3 linked regions of the Homo sapiens genome follow. The protein of the gene in region 2 purifies or fractionates together with the protein of the main gene of each other region. This does not show direct contact. Each region holds a gene or a part of one and is shown on either strand. Other genes may lie near its edges. The genes, in order: BRICD5, STRIP1 and SLMAP.

Region 1 (3,747 bases), on a different chromosome or scaffold from region 2:
TCGGACAACCTGGCCCGGCTCTGGTGTGTGGAGACTGGAGAGATCAAGAGAGAGTATGGCGGCCACCAGAAGGCTGTTGTCTGCCTGGCCTTCAATGACAGTGTGCTGGGCTAGCCTGTGACCCCTCGGGACTGCCTGGTGCAGGTGGTGGCAGCTGGAGGGACCCATGCAGCACCCAGGTCAGAGCAGACCCTCCCCTGCCGGCCTGCGCCAGCTGGACCTGATGGCCCCCTGTGGCGCCTTGACCTGCTGGGCCAGGCTGCCCTGGGACTCTCAGCCCCCAGTTGCTTATCCAGATGTGACAGAGCTCGACCCAAGCCAGGCTGCACACTCCTGGACTGGGCTAGCCTGCACTGCCTGGGAAAGTCGGCCGAGGGCCCAAAGCTGCTGAGGGGTCTGAGGCTGGTGCCCACCCCCAAGCTAGTGTGTTCTCTGCCCCTCCCTGCCCGCGTTTCAGGGCCTCGGTCCATAGAGAACACCACCACCATGGCCAGGTGGAAGGGTTTATTAGTCCCTGCCAGCAGCTGTCCTCCCTGGTGCAGGTGGCCTGGCCAGCCCACTGGATTGGGGACGGGCCAGGCTGGGCCAGGTCGGGGGCTCAGTCTGGGAGGTAATAAAAGCAGACCGACACGCAGATGTTGCTCGGGAAGCAGATGTCGATGCAGAGATAAATCAGCCGCTGTCTCCGGGGCCCTGTGGCGAGGGTGCCGTGAATCTCCAAGGGCTCCGCCCCCAGCTCCTCAAACCATCCCGAGGGCCTGGCCTTCCCCCACAGCGGTCCTGACTCACCCTCTGCTCGCCGGGCCCAGTAGATGGGGGTCCTCATGCACAGGCGCTGCACCAAAGCCCCCGCCTGGGCGGGGTCCACTTCGAGGCTCCCCTGCACTGCCAGCAGCTCCTGGGTGTGGTGGGTGTCCTGGCTGGGGACCCAAGCCTCTTGGACCTGTTGAGAAGGCTCTGGTGGGCGGTGGGACAGGGCTGCTCCCTGCTCCTGGCTTGGCAGGGCCGGGTACCCTCCAACCCCCAGTGATGTCCCCACCCTCAGCTCTTGTCAGCAGCCTGGGCTTAGGGCGGAGAGAGCTTCCTGTTCCCTGAAACCACAGCTCCAGCCTGTCCCGTACTGGGCTGCACACAGGACCCTTTGTCTAGCCCCTGGCCCGGGCCTGCGCCCAGCAGGACGGCTCACCTTGGAGGTATCCACCAGCAGCCGCAGGGTCTCCCGATCACTGTCCTCCATCAGGCGGAGGAAGCAGACCTGGTGCTCCTCAGGGCGGTAACAGATGCAGCCCTGGGGAGGCAGGGGGGTGAGGCGGGGCCCCCCAGACCGACACCTGCCAGGGTGACCCCTCCCTGCCCACTCACGCTCTGCCCGTCGAACAGCACCGCCCAGCTGTGGTTGCTCTGAGGTGGGGTCACTGTGATGGTCGCCGCGTTCCGGGCCACGTCCACCAGGATGGTTTGGTTGGGCCGGGGCATGTGGGGGCTCGGGAGGGTCATTCGCAGCGTCTGCAGCCTTGGCTGGCAGTGGGAGTTGGAGTTCAGCCGGGCAGCTGTGCAACCCCAGCACAGCCTCCAGCTCTGGGCTGCAGGACTCCTGACACCCCTGAGTGGGCCCTTCCACCCCTTGGTCCTCTGGCTGTCTGCTCCTAGGTGGTGTCACTGCCTGCTCCGCACCCTTGCTCTGCTGGAGGCTGGGATATGCCAGCTTCCCTTCTCCCTTTCCACTGTCCATGTCCCTGGTGCTGAGGAGGGGCTCACCTTGGGAGGGCCCTGAGCAGAGCCAAGAAGCCCTCCAGCCACAACCCCCACAGCGGCCAGCACCAGCAGCAGCAGCAGCAGGAGCAGGCTCACGGCTCTCCAGCCCCCGCAGGAGGGCTTGGTCTTCACCTGGGCGTGCATCAGGGTCAGAAGGGTCATGAGGGTTAGACATCAGGGAGCAAGTGGGCTGGGGAAGGGAGGGGCTGGGTGGCCTGGGGCACCCCCTGGGTCCTTGCTGCAGGAGTAACGGGAGGCACTCACCCCTGTAGGCCCAGGTTTGGGGCGCTCAGCACAGCAGCTTGCTGGTTCCATCCTGCAGCCCCTGCTCACAATGTGCCGATTGTCTGCGTCCCTTGTCTGCAGCCTTGGCCAGGGGAAACTCAGAACAGAACCCCTCCCCTCCTGACCCTGCGCCTCCCCCTCAGCTCTGGATCTGATATCCAGGTCAGAGCCAGGACAGCCCCTCCTCCCACCTGGGGGATGCCTGTCACCAGGCCCGGCTCCAGACACCTGGCCTGTGCAGACTGGAGCTCAGGGTCTGGGAGGCGTAGGGCTCGGCCGCGTGGAAATCCAGTCCGGCTGACCGACTGGAGGGCAGCCCAGGCCCGGCCAGGGTGACTCGCTAAGTGTGGTTGGGGTGGATTTCGTTTTCCTAAAGTGGCCTGAGTCTGTCAGGTTATCCTTGACTCCCAGAGTTGGGCACAGGGCCTGACACGCCACAAGCTGTCAATACGTGCCTGTTCAGTGAATGACAGGTGTGGGACTGTGCACCCCCAGCCACTTCCCAGCCCCCGCACACCCAAGACCGGGGGTTCCTGAAGCCTGGACCACAGACAGGCAGCCTGCTGGAGCCTGTGCCCCTGGGACAGTCAGGCCAGCCTCGGGGGCCCGCCTAGCCCAACTTTTTTTTTTTTGAGACGGAGTCTCGCTGTGTCCCCCAGGCTGGAGTGCAGTGGCGTGATCTCAGCTCACTGCAACCTCTGCCTCCCGGGTTCACACAATTCTCATGCCTCAGCCTCCCTAGTAGCTGGGATTACAGATACATGCCACCAAGTCCCGCTAATTTTTGTATTTTTAGTAGAGATGGGTTTTCACCATTTTGGCCAGGCTGGTCTTGAACTCCTGATCTCAAGTAATCCACCTGCCTCAGCCTTCCAAAGCGTTGGGATTACGGGTGTGAGCCACTGCGCCCGGGCCAGCATTACTTCTGAGCTCTGCTCCCTGCCCTGGGCGCTCTGACACGGCAGCCCACCAGCTTCACTCCAGGGCCCTTTGCTTCCCTGGCTTCCCTTTGTGCCTGGCTTTCCCTCATTCTTCAAAACATCTTCCTCTGAACCAGGCTGGGAGTGGGCAGTTGGCATTCCAGCTCTGGAGTTGGAACCCCAGTTACCCATCTACTTTGAGTCCTCCCACCCGTGGTGAGACGGCATCACCCGGGCCAATGCAAGGTGAGAGCAAGGACACCTGAGCCAGTGTGGGTTTGAGAGTTTAATCTGTGCTCTGGCGCCCACAGTGCTGCAGCCCCTCATGGGCCAGAGACAGGATGCACGGGGACTCCCAGCCCCTACCCGGCAAGAGAGGCATCACTGAGGCTGCATCTGCCATGCGCTCCTGGTGTGACTGCACCCTGTCAGGCCAGACCCGGCTTGAGCCAACTTAGCCAAGCCAGCGTCAGTGTCACCAGCCTCATGGGTGGAGCCACCCTCATGCTGCTCTGCAGCACCCTCTGAACCCGATATCCCAGGCCTGGGAGGTGCTGAAGGCTCAGGACGCCTCTTATTGCTCTGAAGTCTTTGTGACCAAGTGGAGTGCTGTGACTGTGGGGCCAAGAGAGAAGCTGCCAGGTACAGGGAAAGGCGCTGGTAGGGAGCCAGCCAGAAGGTGCAGCATCCCGGGATGGCCCTGCTGAGTCTGCTGTCAGGCCTGTGAAAGGTCAGCAGAGCCAAGGAGCAGGCAGGAGAGGCTGGAGCCCCGCCCAGAACCTTGGCG
Region 2 (3,647 bases):
AGGAGAAGTCTCCTATAATTGTTTTTCTCTTTGAAAAAAGGGAAAAAACTGAAATTTTCAGAGAATTTTAATGTTTCTTATAATTTTGCTGGATCAGTAACCTGGAAATACATGTTAACTAGTTTATTCATAAAATTAAAGGGATATATCAAACTTAAAAACATGCTTTATTCAGATAGTATGAACAAGTTTGTCAACAGACTTTCTTAAATATTAAAACTTTTAAACAATTAAAGCTATAGGCTACTGATTTTTCATATAGCTCACTTTTCCTATCCCAAACAATCAGCATACCTTGCATTTTCTGATGATCTGTTTTGCATTCCCTTCACAGATCACTGAAAACTGAGGCTTTACCTGGATCAAGAAAGCGACTTCTATATCCTCTCACATGTTCATCTATTTCTTAAGCTGCTGCCTATCAAACAGACACCATTTATATATCTCCAGGTACCGTCCCATCCATCGATTTACCCACATATATCTCAAACATTTTCATTATGGCTCTAAAGAAACTCTTCCTTAATCTATCATTTTTGTTAAAAACCATACACAACCCCAGGATGGGTGGAGACATGTTTGCTTAAATGCTTTTGTTTTTATTTGTTTCCTATCCCCCTTCACTAGCACATCTAACCAAGAGCTAACTCCAATTACTGCCTCAGTAGCCACATGAGGGCCATGTTGTGTGAGACCAGCAAGGCCGGCCTCCCTGAGACCCTCAGGACAGCACAGGGTGCTTTAAGAGAGCCTCATCCCAGAGCCACGGTCAGCCTGCCCTGCAGAGGACCACACATGGTGACACAGGCCAGGTGGCAGGCCTGAGGGTGTGAGGGCTCTGCCTCAGGAACTATGAGTGCTCTGGAGGTCTGAGACTCACCTGACCTTGGGAGCCCACGGGAGCCCTTTGGGGCAAGTCAGCCTGTCAGTCTGTGGGTGCTGTAGCGGGGGAGGCATCACTTCATCCCGTTCCAGGGGAAACGTCTCCCCCTCCAGACTGTTGTCATCATCATTCTCCTCTTCCTCTTCTCGAGAGTCATCAGCCTTGTAGGGATCCCGCTCGTTGAAGGCATCTAGGTTGTCCTGCTTTATCAGAGCCTGAAACCAGGGAAGGGAGATGAGACAAGAGCCAACTGAGGACGCAGACCAGGGAAGTGCAGCCAGAGGAGACACAGCACATACAGGTGTCCAGTAGAGGCAAGAACAGTGGAAAAACCACAGTGGGAGTCAAGACGGGGGCCAAACCATCAACTACTTCTTGCTCCAGTCCCTCAAAAGCACCACGTGCTGAGCACTCACCATACACTGGACCAGAGCTGGGGACAAAGTATCCTCGCTGTGGAGGCATGATTCTGACTGGCTGATCAGAGATCATTTCCAGCAGCCCTGCTCCTCCAAGGACTGTGCTGCTGCAAGCATGCACCTTGAGGGCCCTCAGGAGTCACAGGGACCTCTGTCGTCCTCACCTTGTGCTCTCGGCGGCCCCGTTTCTGCTGCTGCTCAATCAAGTCTGAAGCAGATGCTGGTGGAGAGGCTGCTCTCATGTTGCGAATCACTTTGATGCTGTCCTCAGGAAGCGGGGGGAGGCCCAGGATGCTGCGCTTCTCAGCCTTCATGCTCTGCAGCTCCTCAAAGCCGCCTAGCGTGCACTGCATCACAGACAGGGAAGCAGAGCCAGGGTCAATGTGTCCACAGGCTGGCCCCTGACCATTGTGTCAGGCTCAGAAACATTCATGACATCATGACCCATGTCTTTATAGAGACCCAGGCAACTCCTGAACAATGGACTGAAGCCACTCCCAAGGAGAATTCCGTGACATCCGCAAGGGAAAGGAGAAAAAGGAACAAGGAAAGAGTGGAGATGCAGGCTGACTGACCCTAGTGCAGATACACTAACTCTGCACCTATGACATACTCTTCAATTTAAAAAGAAGCAAAGAGCCTAACCCTGCAAGTTCCTAGAAAAGTTGGTGAGACTCATGTTTCACAAGTTGTACATGCAAGTCTTTCAAAGTCAAATTAGAAATACTGTTGGTTGCTCAACTTTAGAAGAAGAAAAAAAGCTTCATCTAAACATCTCCCAAGAAGCAGAAACGCCAGCAACATCCAGCTTTAGACTGCTTAGTTTTACTGTTTCTGAGCAATTCAGCTTTCCTCTCTAGCCTTAGCAAGGCTTTATGAAGAACAGAATGTGTGGCCAAGATAAAATGTGTCAATGACTTTTAAGAAATCCTATACTTACTGAGCCCTGGCTCCAGAGTTGACCCATTCTGAAAGGAAGGATGAGCCCCAGTGTAGCAGAGGCCCAACTCACCTCCACCGCCTCCCCATGTCACTCCTCCTGGGAAGGCCTCCTGGCATGGCCTGGCTGCTAACAACGCTCCAAGCCCAGTGTGCTGGACGGCCCACTCTGGCACCCAGTCCCTCCCTACCTAGACACAGAGTCGGGCTGACACCATACCCTGAAGAAAATGGAGGCTGGCTCAGGGCTCACTCTTGCCCCTTTAAGTGATATCCAACCAGGGCCCCAATTACATCAGCTGTAACTTTGCCTCAAATCCCTTTACAAACTCCAGGTCCAGAGCTGCTTGCTGAGAGGCAACTTGTCTGGGGGAGAGCTGTTCTATGACAGAAAACAGCTTCCGGGGTCAGAGAGCCAACAGCCTACTCTGACTCAAGGCCTATGTCCTCGTTGGCTGCAATGGGACAATAGTGGCCCTTCTTTTGTCATCTCCTTTTAGCAGCTTTTTAAATAATTTTTTTTACCAAAGCAGTTTTACAGTCACATAATTCAATATTCAAAAGGATATTCAAGGAACAGTCTCCCTACTGCCCATCCCATAGCACCGTTCTCCTCCTCCAAGGAGGTGCTCACCAATACTGTCTTCCAGAGCAGCAAGAGAACTTTCTTCATGGGAAAGTGAGGGGCGTGACCACTGCAAAATTTGGTCACCATCCCAAACAGCATGATGGCAAATGGCTCATTGTTGTACAGCGGGGAGCCTGGAGGTGACACAAAGGTATCAGGACCCTCCCAAAGCCTTCCGCCTCAGCTTCCAGGCAGGGCCTCTAGAGAGGATCCCCAGGGTCCTACCCAGCTCGGCTCTGAAGGTCTGCCGCATGGTCCTCCACTCAGCCTTGTCACCCTCACACTCCTGATGAACGGTCTCCACTATCAGGTACATGATGTTGAGCAGGACCCTGAGGACAAGAGCCAGCTCACAATGGAGTGGGATGGGGGGGTCAAAGGAGCACCCTAGTGTCTAACAAAGTGCTTACACAAAGCAGGGGCTTACTATTAATAAATGGTATCTGAATAAATGAGTATGAACAAGAATGGCCAAAAGCATTTACCACCCTAAGCTTCCTGAAAAGAAAAAAACCACAGAGGTGGTAGCGAGCTGTAGGGTCAAAGCAGAACAGGGTCACAGTGAGAACAAAAACAGGGTTTATGATGAGGAAATGGAAAGCAGGAGCTGAGAGGTGACGCCCAGGGATCCTAACACCCGGGAGGCAACACTACAACCACCTAGTCTAAAAACTTCCAAATTCATAAAAAGAGCCAGATTTCAACCCTCAAAAACTGAGGGGTGATCTTGGTGGTCAGCAGTTGCTGTGAGCTCCTGGGCAGCCATGAAACATTAGGA
Region 3 (3,647 bases), on a different chromosome or scaffold from region 2:
TTCCCTGGCCCAAAGACCTTTTGAAGGAAGAATTGATAAGTTGACTAGAGTAGCTGAACCCAGAATCAAATTTTTTTCTTTTTTTTTCTTTTTTTTTTTTTTTTTTTTTTAGAGACACAGTCACTCTCTGTCGCCCAGGCTGGAGTGCAGTGGCGCGATCTTGGCTCATTGCCACCTCTGCCTCCCAGGTTCAAGCAATTCTCGTGCCTCAGCCTCCTGAGTAGCTGGGATTACAGGCGCGCACCACCACGCCCAGCTAATTTTTAGTATTTTTAGTAGAGACGGGGTTTCCACATGTTGCCCAGGCTGGTCTCAAACTCCTGACCTCAAGTGATCTGCCTGCCTCAGCCTCCCAGAGTGCTAGGATTACAGGCATGAACCACCGCGCCTAGGCCAGAATACAATTTTTCTAGAGAGAAAAATAGGATATAATCTATGAATATGAAAAAAAAATATATATATATATATATATATATATAATTTCCAAAACCTATTGTAATTGTATTGTGAAAGTTATTCTTAGCTCTTTTTTGATGAATTGAAGTTATTATGCTGAGGTACTTATAAACCAAGGTGATACTCAAATAGAATTCATTAGAACAATATGGCTTACCTGATGATATATTTATTTCAGGCAGTGTTCAGTAGCAGAAGGTTTTAAAAAATTAAAAAGCAGAATGATTGGAGAGGAAGGAGTTTAGGGGAAGGGGCATATTTGAAATAGAATGCTGGATTTAATTTATTTCGGTAAAACCACTTAGGTTACATCATTTAATATATTCAGCAGATTTTTGTTGTTGTTGCGGTTTTTTTTTTTCTTTTTGATACAGAGTCTCACTCTGTTGCCCAGGCTGGAGCGCAGTGGCGCGATCTCGGCTCACTGCAACGTCTGCCTCTTGTGTTCAAGCAGTTCTCCTGCCTCAGCCTCCCAAGTAGCTGGGACTACTGGCACCTGCCACCACGCCTGGCTAATTTTTTGTGTTTTTAGTAGAGACGGGGTTTCACCGTATTAGCCAGGATGGTCTCGATCTCCTGACCTCGTGATCCGCCTGCCTCAGCCTCCCAAAGTGCTGGGATTACAGGCATGAGCCACCACGCCCAGCTCAGATATTTGTTATATGTGCGTGTTGGGGAAATGATGATGACAAAGTAGGCTCAGTAGAGCTTTCAGCCTAGTTTTTATTTTGTGTTCCACAACTAGGGTAATTGTGCTAAAATTTAGCTGTTACTTGAAGAAAAGTTTCTTTTTGTTTTCCATATCCAGTTAAGTTCCAAGTGAAATTTTTCTGACTGGTTATCAAGAAATTTCAAAATTGATGAAGAAGTATAGCATTTTGCTCATCTCACTGAATTTCAAGTCTTAATAAGCAATGAGTTATAATCTGTCACTGTCTGTTTATTTTGATGCTAGAATTGTGAATATATAATTTATGTTAATATATTTTTATAATGTCATCACCATGATTACTAATATATATAACTGTATTTGTATTTTCTCCCAACTACTAAAATGCTTACTATAATTTGCTTCTAAGTTTTATTTAACTCAGTTGTTCTATGTTGTTTATGCATGTGCAAACATGAGAGAGATTACCAGTCTTTTATTGTAGATTATAGTGTGATACTAACTCTTGCTTTTAAAATAAACATGTTTTTGTCAGATGACTTGCAGGGTGCACAGTCAGAAATTGAGGCAAAGCAAGAAATACAGCATCTTCGAAAGGAATTGATCGAAGCCCAGGAGCTAGCTAGAACAAGTAAACAAAAATGCTTTGAACTTCAAGGTGAGATCAAGATTACTTTGGTTCTTTAGGGATGTGTGGAGGCAGCACAATATAATTGGGTGGCCCCAAACTTGGAGTCCGGAGGCATGTTCCAGATTCACAACTTTATGAGATATGTGATCTTGGTATATTTACTTGACCTCTCTAAACTTGTGTTTCAGGTCAGTAAAATGAGGAGAGTTACAGTTGCTCTACCTTCACACTGTTGATGTGAAAATCAAGTAAGATCTTTACTAACTGAAAGATCTTAATAGTTAATTGCATATTAAGTACAACAGAAGGAAAACTCAAATTTCTAAATTTTTATTATGCCTAATGTTAGCTAATGTCCTGGCCACATTCTTTTCTAGTAGCTCACTTATCTATAGGTCATAAGCCAGTGGAGTCTGTGCAGTTCCCTAGAGCTTACATTTCTGTATCATTCATAGTAACTACCTGGTTGCAGACAATTAGTATCTCAAAGAGTCTTAAAATGAGAAAGGGAATGACTTCTGGAGCCCTCATGTTCTCCAAGATGGCCTTCCTGCCTAGTAGGAAGATTTACATCCCAGGAGGGAACTAGGAACTTCTTGTTACTACTTCTTTCCTTTCCTAATTCTCAAAGAAATTAGAATTGGTATTCACTTAACTTGAACCTTTTGGAGGATCCAGGCTAATATATTAAATTACAATGAAAAAATATTTGGTAAATAGCAATTATTTAGTTTAGTGTTTACTATGTGCTTGACAGTAAATATAAGAATTTTAAGTCTTTTTAAAAAATTAAGTTCAAAATGCTGATTAACAATTATCAAGACTGTTTCTCATGTTAAGAAAAGCACATATTGTCTTGGTGATACCAGGTCCAGAAAACTCCACTACTCAGTTGAATAGATTTATTACTTACTACAGTTCTGTGCTCCTAAAATCTTTAAACTAACTGCTAATACTGATAATACTTACTGCCTAACTTTTGTTTCTTTCAATAATCTTTTAGGAGAGAATTTTAAAAGAAATTTTCAGCTGCTCAACTCTGAGTACTTTCATTAATTCACAAAACTATTAATAGATACTGTGTTTTTACTTTTAGCTCTTTTGGAAGAAGAAAGAAAAGCCTATCGAAATCAAGTTGAGGAATCCACTAAACAAATACAGGTTCTTCAAGGTATGGAAGACCCCAAGGCTCTTTGAGATTGTTATTGTGTGTTTGTTTTTAGTGATTCAAAAGGAATGGAGGCCAGGCGCAGTGGCTCATGCCTGCAATCCCAGCATTTGGGAGGCCGAGAAGGGTGGATCTCCTGAGGTCAGGAATTCGAGAGCAGTGTGGCCAACATGGTGAACCCCTGTCTCCACTAAAAATACAAAAATTAGCTGGGCATGGTGGTGCATGCCTGTAATCCCAGCTTCTCGGGAGGCTGAGGCAGGAGAATTGCTTGAACCTGGGAGGTGGAGGTTTCAGTGAGCTGGGATTGCACCACTGCACTCCAGCCTGGGTGACAGAGCAAGACTCCATCTCAGAAAAAAAAAAAAAAATGAAATGGAAAGTAAGAAGGCAGAGAGTCCCCATTTTTCATGGCTTTGATTCTCTAGAACCTCACATTTCAACACGGCTCTTGGTGGAGCTTTATTTATTTATTTGTTTTTGAGACAGAGTTTCGCTCTTGTTGCCCAGGCTGGAGTACAATGGCGCGGTCTCACCTTACTGCAACCTCCGCCTCCCAGGTTCAAGCAATTCTCCTGCCTCAGCCTCCTGAGTAGCTGGGATTACAGGCATGCGCCACCACACCCAGCTAATTTTGTATTTTTAGTAGAGATGGGGTTTCTCCATGTTGGTCAGGCTGATCTCAAACTCCCAACCTCAGGTGATCCACCAATCTTGGCCTC

What was found.
Region 1: the proteins of STRIP1 (region 2) and BRICD5 purify together in Homo sapiens (co-immunoprecipitation; one large-scale study listed by IntAct). This does not show direct contact.
Region 3: the proteins of STRIP1 (region 2) and SLMAP purify together in Homo sapiens (affinity purification with mass spectrometry; 4 studies listed by BioGRID and IntAct, with this or other methods). This does not show direct contact.

Annotation. Positions count from the first base shown.
Region 1 is NC_000016.10:2,208,764-2,212,510, forward strand, and holds BRICD5 (BRICHOS domain-containing protein 5), read right to left. Parts: upstream 2,101-3,747; 5' UTR 2,071-2,100; coding exon 2,020-2,070; exon of another isoform or gene 1,931-2,019; coding exon of another isoform or gene 1,888-1,930; coding exon 1,759-1,887; intron 1,519-1,758; coding exon 1,363-1,518; coding exon of another isoform or gene 1,289-1,362; coding exon 1,187-1,288; intron 944-1,186; coding exon 790-943; coding exon of another isoform or gene 694-789; coding exon 599-693; 3' UTR 490-598; downstream 1-489. Other genes in the region: MLST8 (target of rapamycin complex subunit LST8), read left to right, coding at 1-114.
Region 2 is NC_000001.11:110,041,090-110,044,736, reverse strand, and holds part of STRIP1 (striatin-interacting protein 1), read right to left. Parts: intron 3,202-3,647; coding exon 3,095-3,201; intron 3,004-3,094; coding exon 2,876-3,003; intron 1,650-2,875; coding exon 1,467-1,649; intron 1,099-1,466; coding exon 881-1,098; intron 419-880; coding exon of another isoform or gene 400-418; exon of another isoform or gene 50-399; intron 1-49. UniProt on the Homo sapiens protein: Plays a role in the regulation of cell morphology and cytoskeletal organization. Required in the cortical actin filament dynamics and cell shape. Part of the striatin-interacting phosphatase and kinase (STRIPAK) complexes.
Region 3 is NC_000003.12:57,906,223-57,909,869, forward strand, and holds part of SLMAP (sarcolemmal membrane-associated protein), read left to right. Parts: intron 1-1,661; coding exon 1,662-1,784; intron 1,785-2,832; coding exon of another isoform or gene 2,833-2,853; coding exon 2,854-2,928; intron 2,929-3,647. UniProt on the Homo sapiens protein: Associates with the striatin-interacting phosphatase and kinase (STRIPAK) core complex, forming the extended (SIKE1:SLMAP)STRIPAK complex.